Homo sapiens: one gene and its partners. The protein of the gene in region 4 purifies or fractionates together with the protein of the main gene of each other region. This does not show direct contact. Each region holds a gene or a part of one and is shown on either strand. Other genes may lie near its edges. The genes, in order: SIPA1L1, KIF1A, CORO1A and TRIM67.

The links.
Region 1: the proteins of TRIM67 (region 4) and SIPA1L1 purify together in Homo sapiens (affinity purification with western blotting; 2 studies listed by BioGRID, with this or other methods). This does not show direct contact.
Region 2: the proteins of TRIM67 (region 4) and KIF1A purify together in Homo sapiens (affinity purification with western blotting; 2 studies listed by BioGRID, with this or other methods). This does not show direct contact.
Region 3: the proteins of TRIM67 (region 4) and CORO1A purify together in Homo sapiens (affinity purification with western blotting; 2 studies listed by BioGRID, with this or other methods). This does not show direct contact.

Annotation. Positions count from the first base shown.
Region 1 is NC_000014.9:71,582,459-71,589,479, reverse strand, and holds part of SIPA1L1 (signal-induced proliferation-associated 1-like protein 1), read right to left. Parts: intron 3,183-7,021; exon of another isoform or gene 2,552-3,182; intron 1,910-2,551; 5' UTR 1,608-1,909; coding exon 110-1,607; intron 1-109.
Region 2 is NC_000002.12:240,719,217-240,726,237, reverse strand, and holds part of KIF1A (kinesin-like protein KIF1A), read left to right. Parts: intron 1-833; coding exon 834-967; intron 968-2,201; coding exon 2,202-2,263; intron 2,264-2,679; coding exon 2,680-2,825; intron 2,826-3,581; coding exon 3,582-3,782; intron 3,783-4,353; coding exon 4,354-4,431; intron 4,432-5,199; coding exon 5,200-5,324; intron 5,325-6,311; coding exon 6,312-6,464; intron 6,465-7,021.
Region 3 is NC_000016.10:30,179,266-30,186,605, forward strand, and holds the start of CORO1A (coronin-1A), read left to right. Parts: upstream 1-4,336; 5' UTR 4,337-4,460; exon of another isoform or gene 4,461-4,506; intron 4,507-4,883; exon of another isoform or gene 4,884-5,154; intron 5,155-5,238; exon of another isoform or gene 5,239-5,523; intron 5,524-5,943; 5' UTR 5,944-5,944; coding exon 5,945-6,142; intron 6,143-7,332; coding exon 7,333-7,340. UniProt on the Homo sapiens protein: May be a crucial component of the cytoskeleton of highly motile cells, functioning both in the invagination of large pieces of plasma membrane, as well as in forming protrusions of the plasma membrane involved in cell locomotion.
Region 4 is NC_000001.11:231,157,307-231,165,060, reverse strand, and holds the start of TRIM67 (tripartite motif-containing protein 67), read right to left. Parts: upstream 3,004-7,754; 5' UTR 2,092-3,003; coding exon 1,048-2,091; intron 1-1,047.

The DNA of each region.
Region 1 (7,021 bases), on a different chromosome or scaffold from region 4:
AAGACATGCAAATCTTATGTCACATTGTTAATAAATATCTTAATATACAGTACTTTTCTTCAGAAAGTACTGCAAAAGAAAATGTAAGAAATAAAGGATCTCTACTTACCCTTCTGGTAGAAAAATTTTCTATAATAGTATGCACCCAGATCTACGTGTTCCACGATGTATCTTTTCACTCTATCTAGGTGCAACACCAAGTTCTCCTTGGGCACTTCAAGTACTGCCACTCCTGCATTTGTGCAATGGGAACTAAGGGTAGACTCAAAGGAGGCACTTTCACATCCACTAAAGGAGCCAGAATTTGATTTTGAAAGGCTGATTTTCCTCTCCCCTTCTCCACCTATCTCATTCCGAAAATATGGACAGCTCATTACAAGCTCATTGCTTTTATCATCTCCCTGGTCCATGCTGAGGCTTCCTTTGGAATTCAGGTCCTCTGTGCTGCCCATTGGGGAGCTAAAACTGGCTGAATGAGACAGAGGTCCAGAGACCAAGGATGCCACGGCAGCTGCGGAAGCTCCAGTGGTGGTGTTTCTCCTCTTAATAACATTGTGCCTGTTCATAATTGCCTCATTCAAATCAAATAATATACTCTGGACATCATAGTGGGCAAAGCACTTTGGACATGTCCAGGGCCTGACAGAGTCTTCTGATCGGTTATCTTCAAGATCTGATGACTTCCCAAGTTCTTCACCTTTGGCATTGCGCAATTTACGAAAAATAGATGAGTCTCCAGTTTCAGATTTTGAACGTCGCTTGAGTGGTTTTTCCCTTTCCTTAAAAAGCCTGAGGTTCTCTCTCTGTGAGATAGGCCCGTCTATTACATCCAAAGAGAAACCAGAACCCTTGCCACCACCAGTAATGAGAAAGTCACTGAGCTTGGTTGGAGTTGGACCTCGATCAGATTTGTCATCTTTGTAGCCCTTTAACAAATCAAAAAAGCTTTCTCCAGATGTTCCCTGTTTATCAATTGAAGATGTGCTACCATATTCCCTGTGCAGTGATGGTCCAGTCTTGTATGTAGGTGAGATACATTCATCAAAGCTATCCACATCAAGTTCACTTATGGTGATATCACTGTTGCTTCGCTGGCGTATTCTGCGAAGAGCTTTTCTGGGGGAGCTGGGGTAGGCTTCAGGCATGAGAAATCTGGAGTCCATGTTCTCCGACGGTCTTGTCTTGTTTTTCAGCGTGTTCTGTATGCTTTTCAGCATGGCTGAGTCATTGGAATTGAGGCTAACAGAACTTCCCTGACTCACAGGACTGCTTTTGGAGGACAGGCTATCAAGGCAACTTGAGGTTTCTATTTCCTGGCTTGAACGGCTAGATTCTTTTATGTTTTCCTTTCTTGGGGGCCAATCTGCAATCCTTGCCCTTACCCCCATTTTTGGGACTCCGGGGGTTGAGGTTATATGGTGAGAACCTTCACTTCGGGGGGGTCCTACAGGAGCCATAACTGATGATCCTAAGCTGCCATTTTGGGACCGGAAGCGCCGCATGTAGAAATCATCAGTGTGGACTTTGGGGGTGCCGTCTGTGCCAACAACAGAGGCCCTGTCAGTGGCAAGAGGCCTTTCTGTCTGTGACCGTTTCAAGCTGGTCATGATGTAAAAGCAAGTAGACTTAAATCCCTGCAGCAAGGACCATCATATCTGTGTTTTAAATGTGCACTTCCCTTTTGGAGAATGGCTTCCAGAAAATACAACAGTTGCATGAGATCTTAATCTTTTTCATTTAAAAGGTTAAATGATGCTTTATTTGTAAAGCACTGAAAAATTGGAACTTCTAAACGTTATAATCCACAACAGTTTCTTTGCTTCACTTTAACAGAGGGCTTTCTTTCAGAAAAAACTGAATGGAACTTGTACTACTGAGATTCTGTGGTTGCCATAATCCCATGCTTTCTCTAAAAGAGAAAAGGATAATTTGAATTAGCAGATAAATACATCTAAAAACAAACATGCAATTGTCAAAACCAGACACATGAAGATAAAAGACTCAATAATGGATTAGGATTCACAGTTCCACAATCCGTATTTTTAGTAAAGCAGGTTTGAAAGAAAGGAAGAAAGTAAAAACCATTTGATAAAATCCATAATTTATATTCTAAAAAAAAAAACTATTAAGACTTCATCTTAATTGAACTGTTTCATAAAATGGGGGGCAGGGGGAGGGGTACATCTTGTTCTGGATATCATGGCTCCTACCCAAAGTACAGACTTTTGCTCCAATGACCTCTAAAAATGTAGAACATCATGAGCTACTGTGATGACCAGAAGTTTGAGATGTAACCAAGTGAATAAGATAATTAGAGCAACAGAGTTTTTTGACAAAAGTAAAAACTGAAAAATGACTTTACTGAATATGCTGCAACAATCACTTTTTAACTCCTCTATTCCAAAATCAATACATGTTTTTTGTTTCCTTACAAAGGCTTAACATAGTTGGCAAAAACAAATACAGCAGGAAAAAATAAATAAAAAGAGTTTTCCCAGAGCCATTATATCCATTAGCACTCTTTTGTATTTTCCTCTACTTTATTACTTACCGAGACGAGGATATTGCAGAATGAATCCAGCATTCACCACCACCTCTTCCCAAGCTCTCCTTAGTTTCTTGTACTCTTAAAAGCTAGAAGTATCTCACTAATGAACAAAATGCCTGCATTTCCTCATGCAGTACAACCTACTCCACCCCATCAGTGCTAATTTATGAAGACGGCAGAAACAAAACACAGCTCTGGGTGGCCCTCTCCATATCCCCAACAGATTACAGAGAACTGTTAGCATCCTTCCAGGTGACGGGCATGGAAACAAACTTCCTCATGAGCACGTCAGGCAGAAGGCAGGAGACACAGATTCTGAGTACAAAATTCTGCATGGTTGCGTACATTCTGAAAAGAAAGGCAGAGGCTCCTTTTCCAAGACTCCACAAATTACACAAGAGGTGGCCTTTAAATTCTTGCCAAATACATGTTTGGAAAGATGCTGCTGAACCAGCACTGAGCTGACAGGGCGGCATTGTCTACAAATCACGGCTCTGACACCGGAGGACGACCTGCACTTGCTGCACTCTCCACTCAATGGTAACAAGCACCTACTTCCACGATAATTAAGCATCTCCCTAGTCGGCTTCCTGCCTCCAAGGCAGGCGCTTTCATTTCTCTTGCAGCACACAGCATCACTTTAGAAGACTCGCTGCTATTTAAAGGCTGGAACATGTAGGGGTGTTTCAAAAAAAAAAAAAAAAAATGCATGCTGCCTGCAGAATGCAGGGTGAGGCGAGCTCTGGCTGGGCTCGTGCTGGCTGAGTCTGTGGAGCCATTCAGATAAATGCCATTTGTTTTCACTAGCACTCCTCTTCACCATCTTTTGTAAAAGGGATAATAGTTTTGCACTGCTACCTAATTAAACATGGCTTTTGAGCTTTCTAGATACTTCTACTGTCAGACTGCTATTATTCCCTTTACATTCCAGAACTTTACATGTTCCTCTTTCAATGATAACCCTTCAAGTGACAAAACATGCTAACTGTTGCTTCCGAGGATATCAAAGGACAGCATATATGGCCATAGCAAAGGTTCAAGAAGTGATTCTCATAAAATGGAAGGAAAATTGAACAACTGAACCAAAATGCAAACACCTGTTCAACATCTCCCCAAAAGCTGATTATTTCAATGAATACTCTACATAGCATAAATAATACTTCTAAAGTAGATTTTATAAAAATTAGATGCTTTCAACATTTCTCACAACCTCACAGAAATCCAAATAAATCATCTTTCATTCCCCAAACATTCATTCTCTAAAAGGACAACACACCAATCCCACCATGATAAAAACTCTTGCCACATTTCATGTGCCTTAGAAAATACTTTACTGCACAGCTGTCTTTCCCAGGATATGTGAAGTTATTTCCATTAGAGGAGGAAACTAAAAGCTGGCAGTAAAATACAAGAAATAAAACTGACTTGGAAATGCTCAGTCTCCACCATCAGTATTTCTCTTCCAAACCATCTCATATACTTCCAATATTTTTAATGAGTTTATAAAATCTTATTTTTAAATATAAAAATTTCTTACCAATTCAAAAGAAATTTCAAGACTCCCATTACATTATATAACAACGACTCAATGTTTTCTTTTCATTTCAAAATATAAATAAGCACATGGGAGAGAGAGAAGCCACGTTTTAATGGCTTGTAAAAACTGATGAGGTTCGAGATGGGCAATTATGTTAAATAACAGATTTTTTTTCAGTCATAAGGACCTTCCTTTTCTATGTTTTTTTTTTCTCCCTCTCATTTTCCATCTCCCTCCCTCCCTCCCTCCCTTTTCTCATTCTTATTTATAGCATCAAACCCCTTTGGGGTACAATATAAACTTTGGGCACTGACTAGCATATATGGAAATATACATGCTTTGCACTTATTAAACTACCAGTCAAAAATAATGCTGTCCATCGATGTGTATCATATGATGACAGATCAATAATACCTTCACATCTATTCCTTAGGGTTGACTGAAACAGCAAACCTATGTTGACAATGATCAGCAACTCTCTTAAATATCAGCAAACCTGCCTAAGTACCAATATGGTAAAAAGCAATAGAATTAAACAGAAGAGCAATACGAATTCACAGCATGTCACCTCCATCTGTTGAAAGAGCAGGCTATATAAAAATTTTCCTTATTACATGTTTAATTTTACAGCTCTAGATACTATCTAAGTCTATGGTAGATCCAGGTAGCTAGAATACTAATTCCATCTAGAGGGCCCACAGTTTAGTTCAATGAGTTCAATTCAACTAGTTGAAAGTCTTTTCATCACTCAAGATCTCTCACAACCTAACCCACCATTCTTCCAGAAGAAATGCTTCCTCCTCTCATCCAAATCACCCCCTGTGTTTCTGTAGTGTCTTCAGAGCATGGACCATACATCCACCAGTCCCTCCTTCAAGGAAAGCTCCAGGTGTAGCAGGGAGACACAGACAAGTAAGAAGATGACGGGGGATGCATGGGTCATGCCTCCTTCCTATACACTTTCCATTTTGATTGTAAGCTCTTTAATAACAGAGCTTACAATCTCCTGCTGGGACTAATTGTACCACAGTAGGTCAGCCATTTAGAATATCAAGTCCCTGAGAATGCTGAAAGCAGAACCTCTTATGGGATCTCTTGATTGCCAAAAATCCCTTGTCATTCTGGCTCTGTGAAGCATCTGTACTCCTGAACCCATCCTCCATCCTGAACCTCTCTTTTCTGGACCTCTGTGATAACCATGTGCTTCTTCATTTTCTCTTGCCTCTTTTTGCCCACTACTCAGTCTTTAGTTGGGGTCCATTGAAAAGGTGGTGTCTATGGTTTATCTCTCTTGACATTTTTCATATTTCTGGAAAGGGGTATAAAAGGTATTTCTATCAGGATGCATGTGAGCACTGAGTGTATTAGGATGAGACAGAAGCATGGGTCCACTGGAGTAATAATATCACTGTGGAAAGCAGAGTGTTGATTGGGCTGGCTCACATTTGTCTGTGCAGCTGAACAAAGGCAGAATAATTAAGTTACTGGCTGGAAATCTGCATGGCAACCAGTACTCTGTCTGTTGATACTGTAGGTGCCTGCAGCTTTAAATATCATCTCTATGCTGTTACCTCCAAATCTCTGGTCATGATCTTCTCCACTAAACTTCAGATAAAATAGAGGTAGGTGCTCATTTGACATCTTCTTTATTTACCTATTTTACAATGAAATAACCAACAAGCAGAATAATGAAAAAAATTTTTTTTCAAGAAATGATTAAGTGGTAAGGAAGGGAGCACATTCTATTCCTAATTCAAGGAATAGAATGAAAGAAACAACATCGTGCCAAGGGCATAAAGAGCAGTTTAAAGGTTACAAGAAGAAGATGTGGGAAGGGGGTGGGGTTGGGGGAACACTACAGTTCCTGTTGTGAAAGAATTACAGTGCAATATGGTAGGGTCACCAGAAAGATGTAGCGTTCCTCATAAAATACTTCCACATTCCAAAATGAGATCTTCTCAGATTCTTTAACTGGTACAGCCTAAAATACAACGCCAGCTCTCAATGTTTCAGGGCAGTAGAAGGAACTGTGCTGATGAATAACTATTCAAATGCCCCAATAATTCAGAGATATACACTTCAGAAGTATTTATGAAAATTTCCAGGCCCAGCACAGTGCCTTGTGCCTGTAATCCCAGCACTTTAGAAGGCCAAGGCAGGCAGATGGCTTGAGCCCAAGAATTTGAGACCAGCCTAGGTAACATGGTAATACCCAGGCTCTTAAACAAACAACAAAAAAATAGAAATAGTTTTTGAACTTGTAAACACAGACTTAGAATGCCTGTAAATATTCTTACTTCAGAATGTAATAAAACACTATTTAAAAACAGAAATATAACTTCACAGTACTTGAATATTAGATGAGCTAAGATAATCAAATAAGGCAAACTATTTTCTTTACATCCCTTCTTGGCTTTCCTGAATTCCACTCACATTACATAAAAGTTGCATCTCAGACAGAAGGGATGGCTCACTCTTTCAAGTTAGCCTGAAACACATCTTAGTGCAATGTCATGGATAATTTAAGATTTATGAATCAGCGTAAAACTTTTTAGAATGGAATTTCTACCTCCTTTCATTTCTGTATTCTCCCTTCAACAAAAAGCAGGAAGAGTTGAGAAAAACAGTTGATAAATCTAGTTCCTGCTCTCCTAATGTTCACTCTCTGAAAGAGACAACACTGATGGAAACAAAGTCGAGTCAAAAAAACTTTTGGTAAAATTAACAAAGTGAATAGAAAAGTTATAGATACAAAACATGTAACATGATAAAGCTGTATTTGAATTTAGAGATAAGAAAGCAACTTAAAATGTGCCTGTTTGGACACAGGAAGGATCAAAAAGGAAAATCACATTTCCCTCCCACTCACCCTCGTAGCTAAAAAAGTTCAGTGAAGAAAGTTACGCTTCTAAGGTTTTGTTAAGCTTGAATATAGT
Region 2 (7,021 bases), on a different chromosome or scaffold from region 4:
ACATTGTGTCTGCATTCCGGGCAGCACAAAAACAGAAGTGTTCCATCCCCACAGCACCCCCAGAGTCTGCAGTACATAGGCCGTGGCCAGACCTGGGCTGTGGCCTCCCTTCCAAGTGCAAGAGGTGACTGGAAGTGTGGGCGTTTCTTGCTGGTCATAGTAGTGAGGGAGAGGGAGGGTGGGGAGCAGTGGGCAGGGGCATCTGCAAGCACATCCCCTCTCCTTAGTTACAGCCGAATTATTCCAGCTTCACATGGGGATGGTGTGACCATCTCACCAGATGGTGGTGAGGTTGCCGTGAGGAGGCGCTGGCAGAGCTCTTCCCAGCGAGTGCTTGGGACTCTTCAGCCATGCACAGCAGCTGCCCCCACTTCAGGAAGACAAAGGGGCCAGCTGTTCAGCAGTTAGCGTGTCATCCACCAGGAAGTCATTTTCTGTGGTGTTTGGGTTAAAATGTGCACATTCAAACAAGACCTGGTTTGATCCTCACAGACATTCCAGGGTCGGGGAGGGGTCACCCCAATTTTATGGTGAGGCAGCTGAGGCCCGAGCAGTGAGCCTATGTCTGGGACCCTCGGGGTCCCCACACATGGAGACCAGTCCCTCAGGCAGCCCAGGGGTGGACAGAGCTGTGGCTACCTGTCCCCAGTGGGGTTTTCTCGAGGGCAGGAGCAGAGACTTTCTCCTGCCTGCGTCCAGGCCACACCTGAGGCCCTGGGAAGGCCCTGGGGCTGCCTGTCGGTGCTGGGCATTGTGCCCCCAGGAGAAGGCTGGAAGGGCACCTGGGCACTCGGGGTGTCCTTGTGCCTGAGTCCTGCTCCCGCCTATCTCAGATGGAGAACTGCACCCAGCCGGCTGTTGTCACCAAGGACTTCTGCATGGTCTTCTATTCCCGTGATGCCAAGCTGCCAGCCTCGCGCTCCATCCGCAACCTCTTTGGCAGTGGGAGCCTTCGGGCCTCAGAGAGGTAAGCTCCCAGGGGTGAGGACCACATGGACTCCCACCCTGGTCTCGGTGCGGGCCAGGCAGGGCTCTGCCTGGCAGCGGTCCTTGGGCCACCCGGCAGCTCACCCTGTGCGAGGCCCAGCCACACTCCTGGCTGGCTCCCTGCGCTCAGTCCCCTCCTGCTCACCCTAGATGAAGACTCTGTGGAGGCCATGGTTCCTGCAGGGGACACTGACACCACTATGAGGGACTTGAGGGCCAGCCTGCAGCGGATGGGAGGAGGGGCAGGCCCAGGGTGCCCACCTGGGGCCTCCTGTGGGTGATCCTGGGGCCACACCGTTCCCCCCCCCCCCCCCCCGCCGCCGGTGACCTTCTTCCCTGAGGACCACGGAACCTGTGCCATGGGACTGACTGCCCACAAGGCACTGAAGGAGGAGCTGGATAAGTGGGCGGTGGCTGGAAGGGGGCTCTGGACACAGCTTCCCACAGGACCTGCTGGGTGGCTCTTCTTGGAGGCTGTCAGCACCTTGGGGAGCCACACACCGAACACCAGGACCAGCCGTGCTTGCGTGCTGAACACGCTCCTGATTCTTGGGGGTGGGGGAGAATGAGCCGGAATGTCAGGGCCCTGACAGCAGGGCTGCCGAGGCTACCGGGCACCCGTGGCCACCTTCAGTGGGTCTCCCTGTGGTCTGCCACATGGACCTGGTGTCCAGGTTCACACTGGGCACAGCTGGGAGGAAAGAGCTTGGGGGTCAGGATCCAGTGTCCTTGAGGGCTGGCTGTGGTCATTCTGGAGGTCACTCAGTAATTGTGGGATGCCACCGACCTGTCTGTGGGAGGGTGGCCGAGGTGCTCTCAGAATCTGTCCGGGGCACAGTGGGGCTGCTCTGTGGGGTATGGGGCCTGAGGGGCTCTCGACGCCGTGGAGGGACTGGAGATGCCAGATGCTGTGCTCATGTTGCCTGTACCCCACTTGGGCTGGGACAAAGTGGAGGCTGCTGTGGGGGCCTGGCCTCACGTCACAGCCCCATGGGCACCTGAGCAAGACCAGCCAATGCATCTTTTCTCTGGGGGCCGGAGGGAGTCTGGGATGAGGACTCTGAACAGGGGCTGTAGCTCAGGGACCTCAACACCCCATCACCCCAGCCAGGCTGACTGTGCGTTTGATAGTGGGGCAAGTCAGCAGCCAGGCTGGCTGTGTGTCCCTGTTGCGGGGCCTGGTGACTGCATGTCACTCCTTCTACTCCCCACAGTAACCGTGTGACTGGTGTGTACGAGCTCAGCCTGTGCCACGTGGCTGACGCGGGCAGCCCAGGTAGGTATCTGCCCTGCTCTCACTGGGTGGGTTCCTGGCCTGCTCAACCTCTGCCCACTTGGGGTGACCACAGCGAAGCTGCCATTTGCAGGGGGATCCCTCACAGAACCCAAGCACTCACCTTGTGGCTTCTGGAGTTGTTCTGAGATGGGAGGAGAGCGAGGGAGGAGAGTCAGGCCTGCTGGCTTCCTTGGGTTCCCAGGGCACAGCCGAGATGGCCATGGGACGCCGGGCTGGATAACTTCCTATGGAAGAGGCCTACATGGCTCTTTGGGCCCCAGGGTGGACCAAGGACCAGGGGAAGCCCATCTCCACTCCAGAGGGGAGACAGCTTCACAGATGGGCGGACCTCTAGGATGGGTGGGAGGAGCAGCCACCCATCAGGTAGGGGTGGAATGTCCACGTGCCCCATGCAGGGATGCAGCGCCGGCGCCGACGAGTCCTGGACACATCTGTGGCCTATGTCCGGGGCGAGGAGAACCTGGCAGGCTGGAGGCCCCGGAGTGACAGTCTCATTCTGGACCACCAGTGGGAGCTGGAGAAGCTGAGCCTCCTGCAGGAGGTGAGGCAGCCTCAGAGGATGAGGCCCGCACGGTGGTGTCCATGTGGCTTTGTGTGCAGAGCAAAAGCTGGAGAGGGCCCAGGGCCTGGTGCCTACTGGGGGGCAGCACAGCTGCTTGGGAGTCACAGCCACCTGCAGGAGGAGCATGTGATGCTCCAGTGTGCACTGCGGGGCTGCGTGGTGTATGACAGAAACATGGCCAGTGTAGCACAGAGGCATGCTCTGGAATTAGCCGAGGAAGACTATCGGGCATATAGACAGAGGCCAGAAAGGGACCCGGAAGGAGAGTCGCGGGGCTGGGCTGCCCTCTGCGGCTTTGATCAGGGAAACCAACATGCAGCATCTAGGCACTGCCTCGGGCCGAGTGTGTGTGTGACACGTGACGCGTGACGTGTGAGATGCGTGAGGCCAGGGCTCTGCCCACCCCTCGGCCCTCTCCTGAGGCCTCCAGCACTGCAAGGCAGCACAGCCCTGCCCCAGAACCTGGCGCGTGAGATGGATGTGTCTGAGAGGAGCAGCTTGCTTGCTGCCCATGAAGGTGGCAGGGCTGGGGTGGGGGCTGAGGGCTGTCAGCCCCGGGGCGCCAGGGTCTGTTCCCTCATTTCACAGCTGAGGGCTGTCAGTCTTCAGTCTTAGCCCAGGGGAGGGTGGGCTCTCCGGGGTCTGCCCAGAGGGTCATGCTGCTGCTGAGGCTGAGCACAACTCCGGAGGTCACCCCTGAGGTGCAGCAGGTAAGGCCTTGTGTCCTGTCTGAAGGTGGAGAAGACTAGGCACTACCTGCTCCTGCGGGAGAAGCTGGAGACCGCCCAGCGGCCTGTCCCGGAGGCACTGTCCCCGGCCTTCAGCGAGGACTCTGAGTCCCATGGCTCCTCCAGCGCCTCCTCCCCGCTCTCGGCTGAGGGCCGCCCATCACCCCTGGAGGCTCCCAACGAGAGGCAGCGGGAGCTGGCCGTCAAGGTGGGTCCAGCTGGTGGGCAGTACAGCCGTAGCCCCAGGCCCTCAAGGGCCCTGAGTCATTTCTGGGCAACTCCAGCAACCCGGCCTTGCCCATGGCTGCTCTGGTTAGCACCACCAGGAGCTAGGAGCTTGAGGGGTCCCTAGGGTCCCCTTGCCCACTGACTGCACCCCACCTGCACTGAAAGTTGGGTGCCTTTTGCAGCCTCCCTTCCCAAGCGATGAATCACTCTCTTGAATACCTGTGCTGATGGGGAGCTCACCACTTCCACCCACAAGTGGCTCTTTTGGCGGCTGAACGGGCCTCTGGGAAGGCTTCCTGCGCCTCCTGCACTGGAGGCAGCACAGCCTCTGGCCCTCACACCAGGCCCTCAGCCGGTGCCTGACCCTGGGAGACTTCCTGGGCTCACCCGATGACCTGGGCGGGGTGGAGGTGCTGCCCACCTTGACCCACTGTGCTCTGGCGTCGGAACCCACCTGTGTCTGGGGAGGGGTGGGTAGAAGAGCCTGCAAGGCTGTCTGAGCAGGGTCCCGGGAGGCCTGGCCCCTGACCACGCGTGTGCTCTGTCCACAGTGCTTGCGCCTGCTCACGCACACATTCAACAGAGAGTACACACACAGCCACGTCTGCGTCAGTGCCAGCGAGAGCAAGGTGGGTGCAGAGGGGCTGCACCAGGCTGCCCCGCAGGGCTCGGGCTCCCATAGGCAGTGGTCCCTGAGGAAAACTCCCATTCCAAGTGGGAAAAGGCAGTTAAGAGTTTCCTAGGAACACGTCTCAGTGCAGAGGGACACCTCATACCTAAGTGGCTGGTTTCCCTGGGTCGGCCTGGGGTCCATGGGAGGTGGGGATGTGAGTGAGGGGCCGGGTGGGTCCTGTGGCCTTGGATGCACCCATGCACTTGCAGGCTTCTGCTGTCTTCCTGGCCCCCACCCTGTCTGGCCATCACCCTGTGGCCTCTGGCCCAGTCAGTCAAGCTCCCACTTGGCTGTCCCTCCTCCTCCTGGGACCGACCCCACCCCTGTAGCCTGGGAAACTGCTGCTGTGCTGCATTATGCGTGGAGCTCCAGCCCTGGCCCATGGCCTTCCTTGTCCCCATGGCATCACCCAGCGCCACCTCACGCTGGCATGGGCAGGAGGCGGCAGGGCAGAGCTTACCCAGCCCACTCCTCGAGGCATTGGCAGGGTGGCTGCCTGGGTCAGGCCAGAGCCTGAAGTGATGGGAGGGGCCGGCCAGGGGCCACAGGGGCTGGAGGGGGCCGGGGGTCTTGAGCTGGCCAACTTTGAGCCAAGGCTGCTGGTAGGAGGGGTGGGGTGCCCTAAGCAGCAGGTGTGGGGTAAGCGCAGGCACAGGGAGCAGCTCCCACAGAGGCCGGAGACCCCCCTTCCCTGTGTCCCCTGAAAAAGGCCTCTCCTCCGCAGCTCTCCGAGATGTCTGTCACCCTGCTCCGGGACCCGTCGATGTCCCCTCTAGGGGTGGCCACTCTCACCCCCTCCTCCACTTGCCCCTCTCTGGTTGAAGGGCGGTACGGTGCCACTGACCTGAGGTGAGTGAGCTCCAGGCTCCCGGAGTGGCTTCTGGCACCACGGCTGACCCATGACCATGGCCGTGACTCGGGCACAGAGAGCACAGAACAGGGGGCCCCAATGGCCGAGTGCCTTGGGGTGGCCACAGGCTGAGGGAAGGGCCTGGAGGAGTGGAGTCCGCAGCCCTCTCAGAGGGTGCCTGTGCCCCGCCAGCTCCATCCTAGTGTGTGTGTGTTCTCTTCCCTGAAGAAGACCAGAAATGGGTGGAAAATAAGCTAAAGCTCCCCTTTCCTGAGACAGTGCTTATAAAATAATGGAAAAAGAAAAGGTTACGAAAGAGGGCATGAGAGCCGTTAGAGTCAGTATTGTGGAGGGGACACCTGGCCCCTGCAGGTCCGCATTTGGAAGAGACCTCGTGTGAACCCCTTATGTACAATTCATAAGCAGGCAGATGCTTTTCACTCTTGTTTTAAGCGCCTTAAGGGTTCCAGATTTTCATTTAAATAAGAAAGACGGTGGCATCAGCTGGCCTTGTCTTCTGCAGGCCTCCTTGACCACCAGGTCGAGTCGCGTGGGGCCTGGCCCATGTGGGGGGCCCATGCGGGAGGCCATCGGCACCCTCTGCTCCAGTGGCTCCTTGGAACCTCGTGTCACCTTCAGTCTAGTTGTGGAGATGAAGAGATGCTGGACTTGCTTTCACAGGGTGGAGGTGGGGGCAGGAGAGCCACTGGGAGAAGGGCGTGGAGTGGGGCACAGGCTCCCTGGCTGGGCCCCGAGGTTCCTGGGGGACCCTGCCCACCAAGCCCAGCACTTCCTGGAATCGGGCACAAGCTTGGCTATCCTGGTGGACGGGCCCCGGGAGCTCCCACTGTGGGCACAGCTGGAGAGACCCTGCGAAGGTGCCCTACTGCACCTTCTGAGGTGCTCTGAGGAGGGTGAAGCCTGGGGGAAGACGGCCCCAGGCCCAGGGAGGCCTGCAGTGGGCAGCACTTCCCTCTGCTTCCCAGGACCCCGCAGCCCTGCTCCCGGCCAGCCAGCCCAGAGCCCGAGCTGCTGCCAGAGGCCGACTCCAAGAAGCTCCCTTCCCCTGCCCGGGCAACAGAGACAGACAAGGAGCCCCAGCGCCTGCTGGTCCCTGACATCCAGGAGATCCGAGTCAGGTGTGTGGGGCCTCCCTGGAAAGCACCGCCACCAGCTCTGTGCTGACAGGGGACAGGCAGGCCACCCTGCTCCCCATACTGGGGGCACAGGGACCCTCATACTTGGGGAGACAGACAGGTTGCCTGATGCCCATACTGGAGGTTCAGGCAGGCTGCCCCTGACCCACATGGAGGGACAGCTCCATGCTGGGAGGTCAGGCAGGGCCCTGTGACCCACATGCCTAGGCTGGGAACCAGCACAGAGCACAGGGGAGTGGGTGGGGTCAGAGCCAAGGCCCAGGTGGGGAACTCGTGGTCACTGGGTACAGTGTGACAGCCTTCAGCAACTTTAGCTTATTTCTTTAAGTTTTTCCATTTTATGGTGGGGAAACTGAGGCCCAGAGCTGGCTTGGTGGTCTGGTCTCCGGCCTGCTGGGTTGGGGTTCTGCCAGGTGCCCTTCGATGCCTCGACCCACTTTCTGGCTGGGGAGGTGGTTGGCACTGCTGCGTCCCAGCTCTGGGTGGTAGATGGTGAGTGCCCGAGTCAGTCGCTGCCCCCACCGAGGGCCCCAGCGAGC
Region 3 (7,340 bases), on a different chromosome or scaffold from region 4:
GGTCCTGTCTCCCTCCAGGGTAGGTGTAATCAGAACTTTTTCAGCTGCAAGTGCCAGGAATCCAACTCATACTTCTTGGCTTACGTGAAAAAGAAGTGCATTGCCTTATACAACAGGAAAGTTAAGGGTTTCAGGCACAGCTTGATCCAGACACTCAAATGATCTCAAGAATATGTCTCTTCATATCTGGCCTCTTCAGGCCTCTGTGTAGACCCATCCTAGCCAGCTTTTTGCTGTTTTTTTTGTTTTTGTTTTTTGTTTTTTTTTTTTTGAGACAGAGTCTTGCTCTGTCGTCCAGGCTGGCGTGATCTCGGGTTACCAAAACTCCCACCTCCTCAGTTCAAACTATTCTCCTGCCTCAGCTTCCCAAGCAACTGAGACTACAGGTGCACACCACCATGCCTGGCTACTTTTTATATTTTTAGTGGAGACAGGTTTTGCCATGTTGGCCAGGCTGGTCTCAAACTCCTGGCCTCAGGTGATCTGCCTGCCTCGGCCTCCCAAAGTGCTGGGATTACAGGCGTGAGCCACTGCACCTTGCTCTGACCAGCTTTTCCTGCATACCAACAAGATATCACCAGCAGTGCTGGGCTTACATCCTATCAGCTTCCTAACTCCCAGTGGAGAGAGGGCATCTTTTTCACAGCAGCTCCAAGGTGAGTCTTGGGCACAAGATGAATCAAGTGCCCATCCCTGAGCCAATGAAAACAGGTTGCTTTGGTTGGGAAGCACAGGCCATGTGAATACGCCAGGTCCCCTCCTGAACCTCATGGAGTGCCTGTGAGGAGAGGTTGGTTCCCCAAAAGAAAATCCAATAAAGAGGCGACGGGACCAGGCACGGTGGCTCATGCCTGTAATTGCACCACTTTGGGAGGCTGAGGCAGGAGGATTGCTTGAGCCCAGGAGGTCGAGACCCACCTAGGCCACATAGTGAGATCCCGTCTCTACCAACAATTTAAAAAATTAGCTAGGTGTGTTGGGCATGTGCCTCTGGTCCCAGGTACTCGGGAGGCTCTGAGGATGGATGGGAGGATCGCTTGAGCGTGGGAGGTTGAGGCTGCAGTGAGCTGTGATCGTGCCATTGCACCCCAGCCAGAGGGAGACCCTGTCTCAAAAAAAAAAAAAAAAAAAAAAAGAGAGAGGCAATGGTAAGAGCTAAACCAGCAGGAACAAGAGAGGCAAAGGTCCCCCTTTTTTTTCTTTTAATTGAAACTGGGTCTCCCTCTGTCACCCAGGCTGGAGTGCAGTGGTGCAATCATAGCTCACTGTTAGCCTGGAACTCCTGGGCTCAAGCGAACCTCCCACTTCAGCCTCCTAAGCAGCTGAGAACACAGGCACATGCCACCACAGCTGGCTAATTTCATTTTTTTTTTTTTTAAGAGATGGGGTCTTGCTATGCTGCCCACACTGGTCTCAAACTCCTAGGCTCAAGTGATTCTCGCCGCTCCTGGGCAAATGCCCTCTGACATCCCTTATAAGGACACCCTTTGAAAAGGTTGTCCCCCTCTCAAACATGGAGAGCCTTGCCAGGGCCTTCCCCACTCACTGCTGTAACTAATTCTTATGCTGCATGGACATCTGCTTCCCAGAACCTCCACCCACCAGCCTTGCCCCTGACCTTTGTGGCAGCCCCAAGGCTGCCCACCCCTTCCCCTGCTGCAGCCCACTTGGCCTCTGAAAGCAGCACTGTCTGCCTGCACCTTGCCCTCTCCAGGGCCGTCAGGCTCGCCACCTTCAGGAGCCTAGTTTTCAGGTCCTTCACCAATGCCCTCGTCCTGTGGGTGGACATGAGGCCCTCCAGAGCTGAAGGCAGTGTGTGCTTCAGTTTCTGCATCTGTAAAATGGAGATAGTATTTGCTACCCAGGGGTGCTATGAGGATTACATGAACATAGTATAGTGTCTAGAACAGTGCCCAGCACATAGTAGGCACTCAATAAAAGCCAGTTATTATTCCTGTCACTTCTGTGGGAGACGGCACATCAGAGTACCCACCTTATCTCGGTCTAGTCCCGTCCAGTCGCAGGCCTTTGAGTACAGTACAGCCCTAAGGTTTTTACAATTGAATAATCTATAAAAGATTTACAGATTTATTGTCTCATTTGAGCCTAGTAACTTTTTTGTTGTTGTTGAGATGGAGTCTTACTCTGTTGCCCAGGCTGGAGTGCAATGGCACAGTCTTGGCTCACTGCAACCTCTGCCTCCTGGGTTCAGGCGATTCTTCTGCCTCAGCCTCCCGAGTAGCTGGGACTACAGGCGCACACCACCATGCCCAGCTAATTTTTTTTTTTTTGAGACGGAGTTTCACTCTTGTTGCCCAGGCTGGAGTGCAATAGTGCCATCTCAGCTCACTGCAACCTCCGCCTCCCAGGTTCAAGCAATTCTCCTGCCTCAGCCTCCAGAGTAGTTGGGATTACAAGCATGCACCACCATGCCCGGGTAATTTTTTTTTTTTTTTTTTTTTGAGATGGAGTCTCGCTCTGTCACCCAGGCTGGAGTGTAGTGCCACGATCTCGGCTCACTGCAACCTCCGCCTCCTGGGTTCACACCATTCTCCTGCCTCAGCCTCCCAAGTAGCTGGGACTACAGGCGCCTGCCACCATGCCTGGCTAATTTTTTGTATTTTTAGTAGAGAGGGGGTTTCACCATGTTAGCCAGGATGGTCTCCATCTCCTGACCTCGTGATCTGCCCGCCTTGGCCTCCCAAAGTGCTGGGATTACAGGCGTGAGGCACTGCGCCCGGCCAGAGCCTCATAACTTTGTGAGGTGGGCAGTTCAAATCTTATTAATTCCCCATTTACCAATGACAAAATGAGGTTCAGAGAGATTAGCCCTCTTGGCCAAGATCGCACAGCCAGTCAGTGGCAGAGGTGGGACTTGAACCCGTCCCTTGCTGTTCCTTGAACTTCTCCACACGACAGGGCTGTCCCTCAGCCTACAGGTCACCCCTCTAGCCTTGCCTGTTGGCTCTTCCTAATCCTTTCAGGCCCAGCCCAGATACTTTTTAAACAAGAATGATGAGAGCTAACTTTTTTTAAAATGAGACGGTCTTGCTCTTTCACCCAGAGAAGACTGGGTGATAACAGTGGCTCAATCTTGGCTCACTGCAGCCTCTGCCTCCAGGGTTCAAGCTATTCTCATGCCTTAGCCTCCTCAGTAGCTGGGATTACAGGGGTGCATCACTACACCACGCTAATTTTTGTATTTTTAGTAGAGATGCGGTTTTACCATGTTGGCCAGGCTGGTCTCGAACTCCTGACCTCAGGTGATCCGCCAGCCTTGGCCTCCCAAAGTGCTGGGATTACAGGCGTGAGTCACTACGCATGGCTGAGAGCTAACGTTTATTAAGCACCCGCCACTTTCTAGATGAGGTCCTTACTGACTTCCTTGGGTTATTTTAGGTAATCATCCCCATACCTCTTACGTGGCAGGTATGACTGTTACAGAGGGAGAAACCGAGGCTGAGAAAGGCTAAGTAGCGGCCACACCTCACTCAGCAGGTGACAGGCTGCGGTCGCACTCATGACATAGTCTGACTCTAGAGCAGGCCTTTCCTGCCCGCTGTTGCTGCCTCCAGAAGCCTCTCTGAATCCAAGGGTGGGAACTATTCCTCCTTGCCCTCGAGCCTTCGCCAAAGCCAGGGCTTGGAGCGGCCGTGGGCTCCTCCTCCTTCCCCCAGGCTGGGCTCTTCAGGGGCGGAAACCTGCCTGGCTTGCCTGCCTTGCTCGACCCTGTAGCCCCTGGCACGAAGTAGGTGCCCGTGATGCCGGATTATTTCAGCAGGAGGGCAGGGGTGTTCCCGATGAAGCCAGGAGATCCAGGGAGGAGAAGCGACTCCCGGGGCCACCCATGCTTAGATCTCAGAGCCAGGCAAGAGCCAGGTCCCGGGGGTCCAGGAGCGCGCTCGGGGCTCCTCCTCGCCCGCGCCCCCCGCGCCCCTCGCGCCCCCCGCGCCCCCCGCGCCCCCTGCGCTCGCGTCTGCGGGGCCGGGAGGAAGGGGCGGCGCAGCCGGGCCGGGGCGGGCACCGAGGCCTGGCGGGCGGGCCTGGGGCGCTTTCGTGCCTGCCAGGGAAAGGCTGGCGAGGAGGCTGGGGGCGGACGCAGGGAGGAAAGAAGCAATGGGGTGCTCTTGCGTTTTGACATTTTAAAAAGAAGTTTAGATTCGCTTCCCGGAGCCGGGATGGCAGCCTGCGCTATGGTTGGGGACCAACGTGGTGCACGGGCAGGGGCCGGGGAGAGAGGCGGCCGCAGCGGGAGCCCGGGAGCGCAGGGCGGGCCTGGAAGAGCTCCGCCCCAAGGGGCGCGGCCACCCCGGAGGCGGGCGCACGGCTGCTTCTCATTCATTGTCTTGACAAGAGCATCTTCAGCGGGCGAGTCCCCGGCTCCTCCAGCTCCTTCCTCCTCTTCCTCCTCCTCCTCCACCTCCGGCTTTTGGGGGATCACTGTCCTCTCTCGGCAGCAGGTGAGGCTGGGCCTGGGAGGCGCGGGTGGGCCGGGGCGAGGGCCACCTGTGGGGCGGCGCGCGCGTGGGAGCCGCGGGCTGCGGGGGCGCGCGGCTGTCACCGCGACCCAGCCAGCGCCGGGGCCAGGTAGCGGGCGCAGCAGCCCGTGGGGGGACGCTGCTTGGAGTGGGGGCCGCCGGGGCCCCAGAGCGCTCTGCGGAGGCGAGGGCTAGGGACCACCGCGGCCAAGATGGAGGTGGGTGGCCGGGGGTCAGCACAGTGTCGAGGGCCCGACTCCCCACGGAATTGAGTCTCGGGGAGGGTGGGGACGAGGGCAGGGTGGGGTGAGCGGGGCAGCTGCCCTGGGCTTGGAGACAGGAAGGGGTTGAGAGCAAAACAAGAAAAGACCAAGTTCCCCTTTCCGTGGTTTCCGGGCCTGGTACCTGTGGTGGGGGAGGAGGCAGGGTGGGGCGATGGCTTCCTGTCCCCCACCTCTGGTCCGGGGCTCCCCTCTCTCCAGATACAGGCTGCTCCTCAAGACTGGGGCTCTTCACATACGCTCCTCACCGCTCTTTGGGCAGGCCGACCTAGCAGCCTCTTCGGGAGTCCTGGGGTGGCCGGGGGTGCTGGAGCCCCCAGTGAGTAGGCGAGGCTGAGGCTAGGGGCAGAGGCTCTGGGCATGGCACCCTCCAAGCGGCAGCACAGGCCCCTTCCCTGAGCAGGAAGGTGATGCGGTGGCACAAGGTCGCCCCTGGAGTTCCTTGCTCCCCACCCAGACACTGGGGGAAACCATCCTACCTGGACCTCAGAGCAGTCGGAGTGGCCTCTCCCTTCCTGTGTGCAGTTTACATGGGGGTGGAGATGGCTCTTAAGGGCACCTGCTTTTCTGAGCGGAGGCGAGAGGCAGAGGTATGGGGAGGAGGAGATACCTGGACCTGAGCCAGAGACCTGCTGGGGAAGCTATCCTGCCGCCTCACTCCCCTCAGGCAGCCCCCACGCCACTTCCTCCTGTGTCCAGCCCCATGCCAGCAGGCGAGGGAGGCCAGCTCCTGTCCCTGCCTTTAGGAAGCGCTGTGTGGGTGTGAGGGAGGTGGGCTCTGGACACGGTAACTAAGAGAGAACCCACCCTCGGAGCCATCTGGGCTGATGACGCCTGAGTCTGAACCATTAGGAAGGACGGGCTCTGCATCCATCAGCCAGTCAGTCAACAAACATGCAGTGGGGCAACACCACGCCAGGCTCTGTTGCAGAGGCTGAGGGTACAGATTGAGAGGGTGGCTCAGAGTGGCCTGGGGCCAGGGAGAAGGGGGCTTGCAGGTTAGAGGGAAGGAGAGGCTGGGGAAGGCAAGCAGGCATCAGCCACAGAGGGAAGAATAGGGAGCCCCTGGAGATGATGCTGGGACCTTAAAAGCCAGACTGAGGGGTGTCCTGGGGGAGGTGGGGACCACTGGAAGATCAGAGTTGACCTGAAGGGAGAAATGCTCTTATGCTGTGTGCCCCCAGAATGAGCCGGCAGGTGGTCCGCTCCAGCAAGTTCCGCCACGTGTTTGGACAGCCGGCCAAGGCCGACCAGTGCTATGAAGATGTGCGCGTCTCACAGACCACCTGGGACAGTGGCTTCTGTGCTGTCAACCCTAAGTTTGTGGCCCTGATCTGTGAGGCCAGCGGGGGAGGGGCCTTCCTGGTGCTGCCCCTGGGCAAGGTGAGCCCCTGGGGCCCTGGGGGGAGCAGCTCCTCCACCGGACCCATGGCTCTGTGCAGGTCCTGATTAGGTGACGGTCACCAGGCCTTCCAGGGCCTGTGTTGCCATCTGGAAAACTGAGCTGGGCCCCATGAGCCTTACACTTCCTCCAGCTCCTCTGTGCTGTGGCTGTGTGGAAACTGACGCTCAGAAGGAGCCAACACAAGATGGGTCACACCAGTGACCAGGACTACAGACAGTCCTGCAGACCCATGATCAGCCCTCCTGAGCCTCAGCCTGGGGCTTTCTCCCCATGGAAACACAGAGGGGGTTGGGATGGGGTCTGGGGGCCCTGGCAGCGTTCTCAGGGTTGGGAGGGACTCTGGCTCTGGGCCTGTCTGAGGACCTAGCAACTCTGTCCCCCAGCTCGCAGGCAGGGATGATGCAAGAGGTGCTCTCCCCCACCCGCAGCCCTGCCCTCCCCTGGAGCCTGCTGCCCCCTCCGCTGGCTGGCTGCTGCCCCGCACCCCCAGCACACTCCTGTGCTCTTTGGGGGGTAAGACAGGAAGGGGAGATGGGCCCCAAGTTGTTACCTTAAAAGGGCTGATGGAAGCAAAGAGAAGAGGAAGTGGTTGTCGGGGTGAGAGCTGGGCCCGCGCCCCACATGGCTGTCACACAGGAAGCCCTGCTGAAGCAGCTGTCCCCGGAAGAAGCCATTTCCAAACCTCTGCTCCTGCCTGGGGCCAGTTGGGACAGGCTCCCTGGCCCCTCTCCTTTTGGGAGGACCCACCCCTGCAGCCCCACCACTCACACTCGCTCTCTGGGGAGCTGCCTCCACCCCCCCAGCCCCCATACACCTGTCCTGGCTCCAGGGCCAGTTGTGCCCATGGAAGCCTCACTCGGGGAAGCTGGGGTGGGGGTGCCAACCCTAAGGGCAGAGACAGACTGAGACAGAGACCGGCGGGAACTCTGCCAGGGTCTTGCACGGCCCCCAACCTCTGCCATGCGTGGCCAGCCCTCCTGGGGTTTGCCCAGGCCATTTTGGGACTGGAACAAGAGAAGAACAACCCGCCCCCGTCCCCACCCCAGGCCCTGGTCCAGCTCCCAGGGACACCACAGCTTTCCTCTCTGGGCCTCTCTGAAGGAGGTGTGGGGAGGTTGGATTGGGTTTGGGAGGCAAAAGCACCTCCAAGGCCCTGCTGTGCCTTTAGACTGGACG
Region 4 (7,754 bases):
TTGAGAACTACTGCTCTAGAACTAGGGATTTGACTGCATATTTATCTTTTTTTCATATGTATTATGCAAATTCTCCTCTTAAAGGTGGATTCCTAAAGTGTTTCATGTTTGTTTTTTCTAATTTGTTATTCTAAAATGTTAAATTATAATAACAACGTATGCTCATTATAGCAGATAATACTATAGAGTAACTATATATGAACAACAAATCTATATAGGAATGGTTAGTCTCTTAGTCTCTTCCTCTCATCTGTGCTCACCTTTTTGCTTATTTCCAGTTGGATAGCCTTGGCCAATTACTTTATTTTCCTCCTCAATTCAAATATATATTTCTGGCTGGGCTGTGTGGAGACCTCTTGCCTCTGCGGTGACTGTTTACTGGTAAGACTACAAGGAATAATTGGTGTCTGAAGTTCCAGAGGCGGTTAGGGGTCCTTCCCACAAGATTCTAACTCTGCCAGGCCTAGTTCATTGACCTCTGGGGAAGTGAGTCCAATTGCTCATCTTTGGCATTTGGATGGGAAATTTAGGTGAATGTTAGAAAAACCAACTCTAGTCTTGACTTGGGGTCTGATCAAGGACCTAACCAGATTTTGATGGCTCCTCTCTTTCTCGCAGTATCAGATACAAGGACACATTGCCAGCCATAAGTTGCTGAGGGTGGCAGAGGGGAAAAGGAGATCCTGCATGCCTTAACTCAAAAGGGACCATCAAGGTAACTTATTAGTCAGACGTTGGGAGTAAAAGAGCCCTGTGTCTGCGTTTTGGGTGCCCTGTGCCTACATAAATCCTAAAACCTCGGGTGGGTGGGGACCTAATAAGTCATCTTTCCATACCCTTCCCATCTCCAGCATCCAGTCCAAAGTACCGGGAGTCCCTTACCTGTTTGTCAAATGACTATCTGATGGAATGAATGGCTAATGAGTGAGGTAATTCCTGCCTGACCCTCTGACCGACTTTCTGTCAGCTCTCCAAGGGAGAGGCCAAAAGCCTTTCTCCTCGTACCCTCTTCCCTGGCACCTGCACTCCCGCGTCCCGCGGGCTCACCTTGTGCTGCTTCCACATGGCCCCCAGCGGCTTCACCTCGTGCTTGGCGTGCCGGCCCTCCTCCAGGCACAGATAACACACCGGGGTTCGACAGCTCACGCAGTACATGCTGTAGTTCTCCATTTCATGCTCGGGACACGTGGGGAACTTGCGGGCCGTGCTGCCCCCAGTCGCCCCCGCCCCCGCGCCTCCCGGGCTCTTGCAGCCGCCGCCTCCGCTGGGGGCGCCCTGGGCGGTGCCAGTGGGCCCGGAGGCTGCCTCGGCGGGCGGCGGCGGCGGCGGCGGCGGCTGCACCAGGCGATGCTTGGCGAAGGGTCCCCGGGATGGATGGCACTTGAGCTGGCAGGCAGAGCAGTAGAGGACGTCGCACTGCTCGCAGAGCGTGGCTGCTGGCTCTGGCGGGGTGCGGTCGCACAGCTGGCAGATGGCCACCGCCGCGGCTGCAGACGTCCCCGGCACGGCCCCGCGGCCCTGCTGGTACCGCTGCACGATGGCCTCGAGCAGCCGGTTGCGCTGGAAGCCGCGCAGGCCGCGGTGGTCCAGGGATGCGCTGCGGTGGCACTGCGGGCACGTGATGGAGCTCGAAGACGAGGACAGCGAGGAGCAGGCGGCACCCCGAGCCGCCGCAGCCGAGGAGCCGGGTGGTGCGGGCACCATGGGCAGCACGCGAACCCCGTTGGGGGACTTGAGGCTCGGGGTGTAGGACCCGTAGCCGCTGTCTGTCTCGCTGTACAAGCTGAGCTTGTCCGCGTGGTCTCCGCCACCTCCCGCACCGCCGCCGAGGCCGCCAGCTGCACTCCCGCCTGCACCGCCGCAGGCCGGGCCAGCCGCAGCGTCGTGCTCCAGAGAGGCAGCGGCGGCGGCGCCCGCCTGCAGCCCCGATCCCCGGGAAAGCAGGAGCGGCTGGGGCAGGTGCTGCTCACCGTCCGGGGTCTGCACCGCGATGGTGCGAGCGCAAGGCAGGCAGACATTGTGGGAACAGGGCAGGATGATAGGCTCCCGAAACAGAGAGCCGCACACGGGACACTTCAGCTCTTCCTCCATCGCGGCGCCGGCTGCCAGCGCTGCTCTGCGCTGGGGATGAATGGCCGGAGCTCGGGAGACTGGCGGAGGAGGACCAGCGCGGTGCGCCCCGGTGAGACGACGGGCGGGGGCATCACACGGGCATGCCCACTTCACAGCCGAGGGGCACGCCCCTCTCTCTGTCCTGTAGCCACCGCCCTAAGATGATTGAGGGGCGAGAGAAGGGAGGGGGTCCTCACCTCCTGCCCGAGGGTCCCGCACCAGCGGCTTCAACCTGCGGCCAGATTCCGGAGCCGGTCGGCTGCCCTCGCGGTGGCCTGCGAGGAGCTTTAGGTGATGAATCAGCACCAGCGCCGCCGCCGGCTGCAGCGCGCGCCTCCTCTCCACCCCAGGACCAGCGGCCGGGCTGCTGTGCGCTCGCTGCTTCAGCCCCTGGCTCCGGTGGGCGGCTACCCCGAGGCCCCCCTTCTGCCCCGGCCCAACTCCTTATCGGGGTGATAGCGAGGTGAGACAGGCAGGTGCGAAGGCCGCTCAGCCGTGGGGCTGGGATCAGCACCACGAGGCGGCGGACAGCGCCCGGGAGCCGAAGGTGGGGCTCCAGCTGCCTGCTCGCCGACCCCTGGGCCGCCACCCGCCGGGTCGCTGGGGCCGCGGCCACCTCGGCGGGACCCGACCGGCCCGGAGACAGCCGCTCACCCTACTCCTGGGCGGCTGTGGACGCCGGCTGACTGCGCCCTGGGGCTTTCTCCCTGCGGCCGGGATTGACCCGCTTCCCTGGTTCCCAGCTGCTGCTCCTGCGGCGCCTCTGACCTTGGGCCGCGCGACGCTGCAGCCGGCGGGCGGAGGGCGAGCGTCCGGCTGGCTCGGGAATCCCCTCCCCGCCTCCCTCCCGCCGCTGCCGCTGCCTCCCCGCGCGGCGCGCCGAGGAGTTGTAATTTCCAGAGCAGAGAGTAATGGGGAGGAGGGGGGAGGAGGCTTCAGCTCAGCGAATAAGGGCTCGCCTCTTGCTGCTAGGGAATCAAGGGGCAATTTTAAGGGTTTTGCAGGGAGGATCATTGTTAATAACAATCCATTATTTGGATGGAGATTGTATCTTGAATCAGTACAACGACCTGCCCCGCCCCGCCCCTGCCATCGTCTCCCTGGGCCACTCCAGTTCCACACCCCACCCCCAACCCACCGCCATAGAAGGGTGAAAACGGGATCCTAAAAAGCCAGTCGTTTAGAAATGGATAGGCAACATGGCCTGACAGTCGCTTCCTAAAACTACGATAAAGCAAAAAAATCCAAGTCCCAAAATGTCGGGCAGCCTGAAGTCCAAGGGTGAGGTTTTATTTATGAATTGAACCACAAGCCATTTTGTCTCTTCCTTTCAACCAAGGGTGCTCATCCGCGCTCCAGGTCAACTGTGTGCACGGACTGAGAGAGGACACGCGGTGCCGCTCACAAAATGGGGTTTCCTGAGAAAGGCGAGAGCGCGCCCGGGTAGACCCCTGGGAACCCAGCGCCCCCAGACCCAGCCCTACCCCGCTGCGGATGTGGCGGTGTGCGGCGGACGGGAAGGCGGCAAGCGGAGACGTTCCTTTTATGAATGGGAAAATCTCCACATTCTCCAACGCCAGCCACGAGCTGCGGGAACAGCCTCCCACCCGCGGCCCCGGCTGTTTGGTCTGCTCGGCTGTTCTTCCCCGCTGCTGCCGAGGGAAGGCTGGGTGGGGGAGGCAGAGGTGGGTGGGGACGAGCAGAAGAAAGTGCTGGCAGCGCAGCCGGCTCTGCCTACAGAAGTTTCACGCTGGCATGAAACAGATACAAATTAGGAAATCGTTTATTTAACAACGATATGAATATTGAAGTCATGCCTCCCTCCGTCCCAGGTTCTCCCGTGCTCCAAACAAAGACTAAAGACCGGAGTCGTAGCGCCAGGCGCGGGCCCAGGCTTCTGCTAGTCCCCGGGTGAGGAGGCGCAGGCTGGCGGGGTCAGGCAGGGGGAAGCTGCAGCCTGCGCCCAGGGCTTGGGGCTCTGTGCCTAGGGGACAGGAACCCCTGCAGGGGGACCCTTGGGGAGGCGCTTGGCGACGCGCTCCTGGCCGCAGCACGAAGGCCCAGAGCCTTGGAAGTCAGGACGCCCCGGGACCACTGGCCCCACTCAGCAGCTCGCTTAGGCTTTCCCTCGCTCGGATCCTGAAATGCCAAATGAATATTGTCATAATACTCATGTCTGAGAACTAAACGAGCTAGTTGCAAATACAGACGGCGTTTCCTACTTTCTGTTTTTGTTGTGGGGGCGGCGGTTGGAGTCTCTCTGGGTCGCCCAGGCTGGAGTGCAGTGGCGTGATCATAGCTCACTACAGCCTCGAACTCCTGGACTCAAGCAATCCTCCTACCTCAGCCTCCCAAGTAGCTGGGACTACAGGCCTGTGCCACCACGCCAGGCTCTGTTTTAAAATCCTATGAACCTTTAGTCCGGCTTTGCAGCTTGCTTCCAGTTTGTGCCAAAGTTGAAGAGTAGGCCAAGCTAAGGCCAGATAGAGCATCGCACAGCATTAAGAGACCTGACTCTACTTCCCCTCAGCTAGGGGACTTGGAACAATTATTTAACCAGGCATCAGTAGCCACAGATGGGAGATGGTAACAACCTTGTCCTCATCTGCCTTGTGTAGATAAAGCCACAATGAGCTGGATCCTGCCTGCAACTCTCAGATAAGCCTTCCAGAAATGTGCTATGGAATCTTCAGGGTCATGTCAGAAACGCAGTGTATGGGTAGGTCTGTAATTGAATGCACTTAAAGATGCATTTCTGTGACCCTAGCAAGTGCCATCATTTACGCCGGCTCAGCCCAGCCTCCTGGTGACCACAAGGGAAGTCATAACCTCTTATGGTTCTACTGTGAACAGGTCTGCCCCAAACCAGCAGCCATATGGCTGAAGTCCAGTCTCCTTTGTCATTTTCGGACCAAAACAAACTGCTTGGGGGTAGGGGTGGCCTCCTGGAGGGGTGTGTAACTCCTTTCCTGTACAGAAGGACTTACAGTTCAAGCACTCCTCCACTCAGACTGAGTGTAGTTTTGTTTTCCACGGGGAGGAGGTGATCTAGTACATCAGAATTCTACACCTATGCATTTCTCATGCACTCTTGTCACCTAAATAACAAAGAGACAGGCTCTCTAAAAGAAGAGAGGTTTATTTGGGAAAAAAGTACCGCAATGGAAAGATGCTTGCCATAGTAAACTCTGTGTGTATTCAGGGAGGTAACAGAAGACAGAGGTTTTTAAGGGAAAAAAATGAGGAAGATTGAATAATTGTTTTGAAATAATTACCCTTGGCTACAAATATCAATAACAGGGGTGATGCCAGCTCAAGGCTGGACAGGTAGTTGCTGGGCAGATGTCCTGATAGAAGTATTTTTTGGTGTAGGGTTATGATGGCCTCTCTGCAAGATTGTAGGTTTTGGAGTCTTTTGTAGTCATTTTTGTTACGAGGTATTTATGCACGAAAACTCTCCCTTCATGGCTCTGTCAGGGCTTTTTTTCTTTTTTTCTTTCTTTCTTTTTTTTTTTTTTTAACATTAGTGACTCCATTTGGATTCTGACAGCTTTCACTCTCAATCCCCACCACCTCAATTCTACAACATAAATCAGCTTATCCGTGCACTGTACTTTTGCTAAAACATTGTGCATTTGGGGGATTAGCATCCTACCACTCCTTTGTCTGAACTGAAGTTACAAAGCTGGCTTCAATGCTTCACTGTATATAATCATAATTGCTAACAATCGTCAACATTATTTATAAAAAGTCCTCTTTCTGTCTCAACTGTGCCATGAACCATATGCATATAGAGAAGTCATTTTAGTTCTCTGAACCTCTGTTTCTCCCTATTATAAACTTTGGGGATAAAATTCACTGAAATTTAAATTTCCTTCTGGGGCCGGGTGCGATGGCTCAAGCCTGTAATCCCAGCACTTTGGGAGGTCGAGGCGGCTGGATCACAAGGTCAGGAGTTCGAGACCAGCCTGACCAATATGGTGAAACCCTGTCTGTACTAAAAATACAGAAATTTGGCCAGGTGCAGTGGCTCACGCCTGTAATCCTAGCACTTTGAGAGGCCGAGGTGGGCAGATCAAGAGGTCAAGAGATCAAGACCATCCTGGCTAACACAGTGAAACCCCATCTCTACTAAAAATACAAAAAATTAGCCAGGTGTGGTGGCGGGCACCTGTAGTCCCAGCTACTCGGGAGGCTGAGACAGAAGAATGGTGTGAACCTAGGAGGTGGAGCTTGCAGTGAGCCAAGATCGCGCCACTGCACTCCACCCTGGGCGACAGAGGGAGACTCCGCCTCAAAAAACAAAACAAAACAAAACAAACAAACGAACAAAACACACAAAAATTATCCAGACATGGTGGCAGGTGCCTGTAGTCCCAGCTACTCAGGAGGCTGCGGCAGGAGAATTGCTCGAACCTGGGAGGTGGAGGTTGCAGTGAGGCAAGATGTTGCCACTGCACTCCAGCCTGGGCAACAGAGCAACACTCTGTCTCAGAAAAAAAAAAAATTCCTTCTGGTTCTACAGTCTCTGTGTATTAGCTGTTGTTGAGAATGACATATCCCTTGGCTGGATGTCGTGGCTCATGCCTGTAATCCAAGCACTCTGGAAGGCCGAGGCGGGTGGATCACTTGAGGTCAGGAGTTCAAGACCAGCTTGGCCAGCATGGCGAAACCCTGTCTCTACTAAAAATAGAAAAATTAGACAGGCATGGTGGCACAAGCTCCCAGCTACTTGGGAGGCGAAGGCACGAGAATTGCTTAACCCCAGGGGGCAGAGGTTGCAGTGAGCCAAGATTGTGCTACTGCACTCCAGCCTGGGTGACAGAGTGAGACCCTGTCTAAACAAAAAAAACAAAAAACGAATAACATAGTCCCCCCTTTAAAAAATGACACTCACAAAAAAATTTGATCCCCAAATTGAATGACATATCTATTTTTTTTCAAGTCCCTAATATATTATTAAAGGCTGGGCTGTGGGGTGGGTGAGGCAAGTAATAATATTTGCATTGTAACACTTAACAGTGTGGAATGAGAACCTTTTTTAATTTTCAGAACATCTCTGGGAATTAGGCATCACCACATTTCCTCAATTTTAATATGTATAAATGTTTACATTTTAATGTTGCTGAAATTAAAAAGTATACTACAATTGATACATACTTCTGCTCTCCCTACTGTTGCTTTGAAAATTTCCTATTAAATTGATGGTGCATCTTATCATCACTTGGCCTCATGGAAAGTACATTAGTAATTAAAACTCCACAATCTACTGCTATCAAGGCAGAGAAAAACAGACTCTGCCATGAGTTACTTTGGATAATGTACTGCAGGATGGTTTTTACACTTAAGTGTCCCAGAAACACTCAAGAGGCTGAGTAATGTAACCTCTCCTCAAAAAAAAAAAAAGCACAAATCAGTTAAATAATTTACTCCAGCTAACACAGCAAGTTAGAAGTAAATCATCTGCATTCCTTTCAGAATGCTTCGAATTTCAAGCATGAAGCAGAATGGAATTGAAGGCTTTATCAGCTAAAATCAGATGCTGTAATCTCAAGTGTAAGAATCTCTAAAACAAATTTTAAATGAAAGCTTATGATATTTTTTCTTTTAGTTTTTTGGGTTTTTTTTTTTAACAGTTTAGG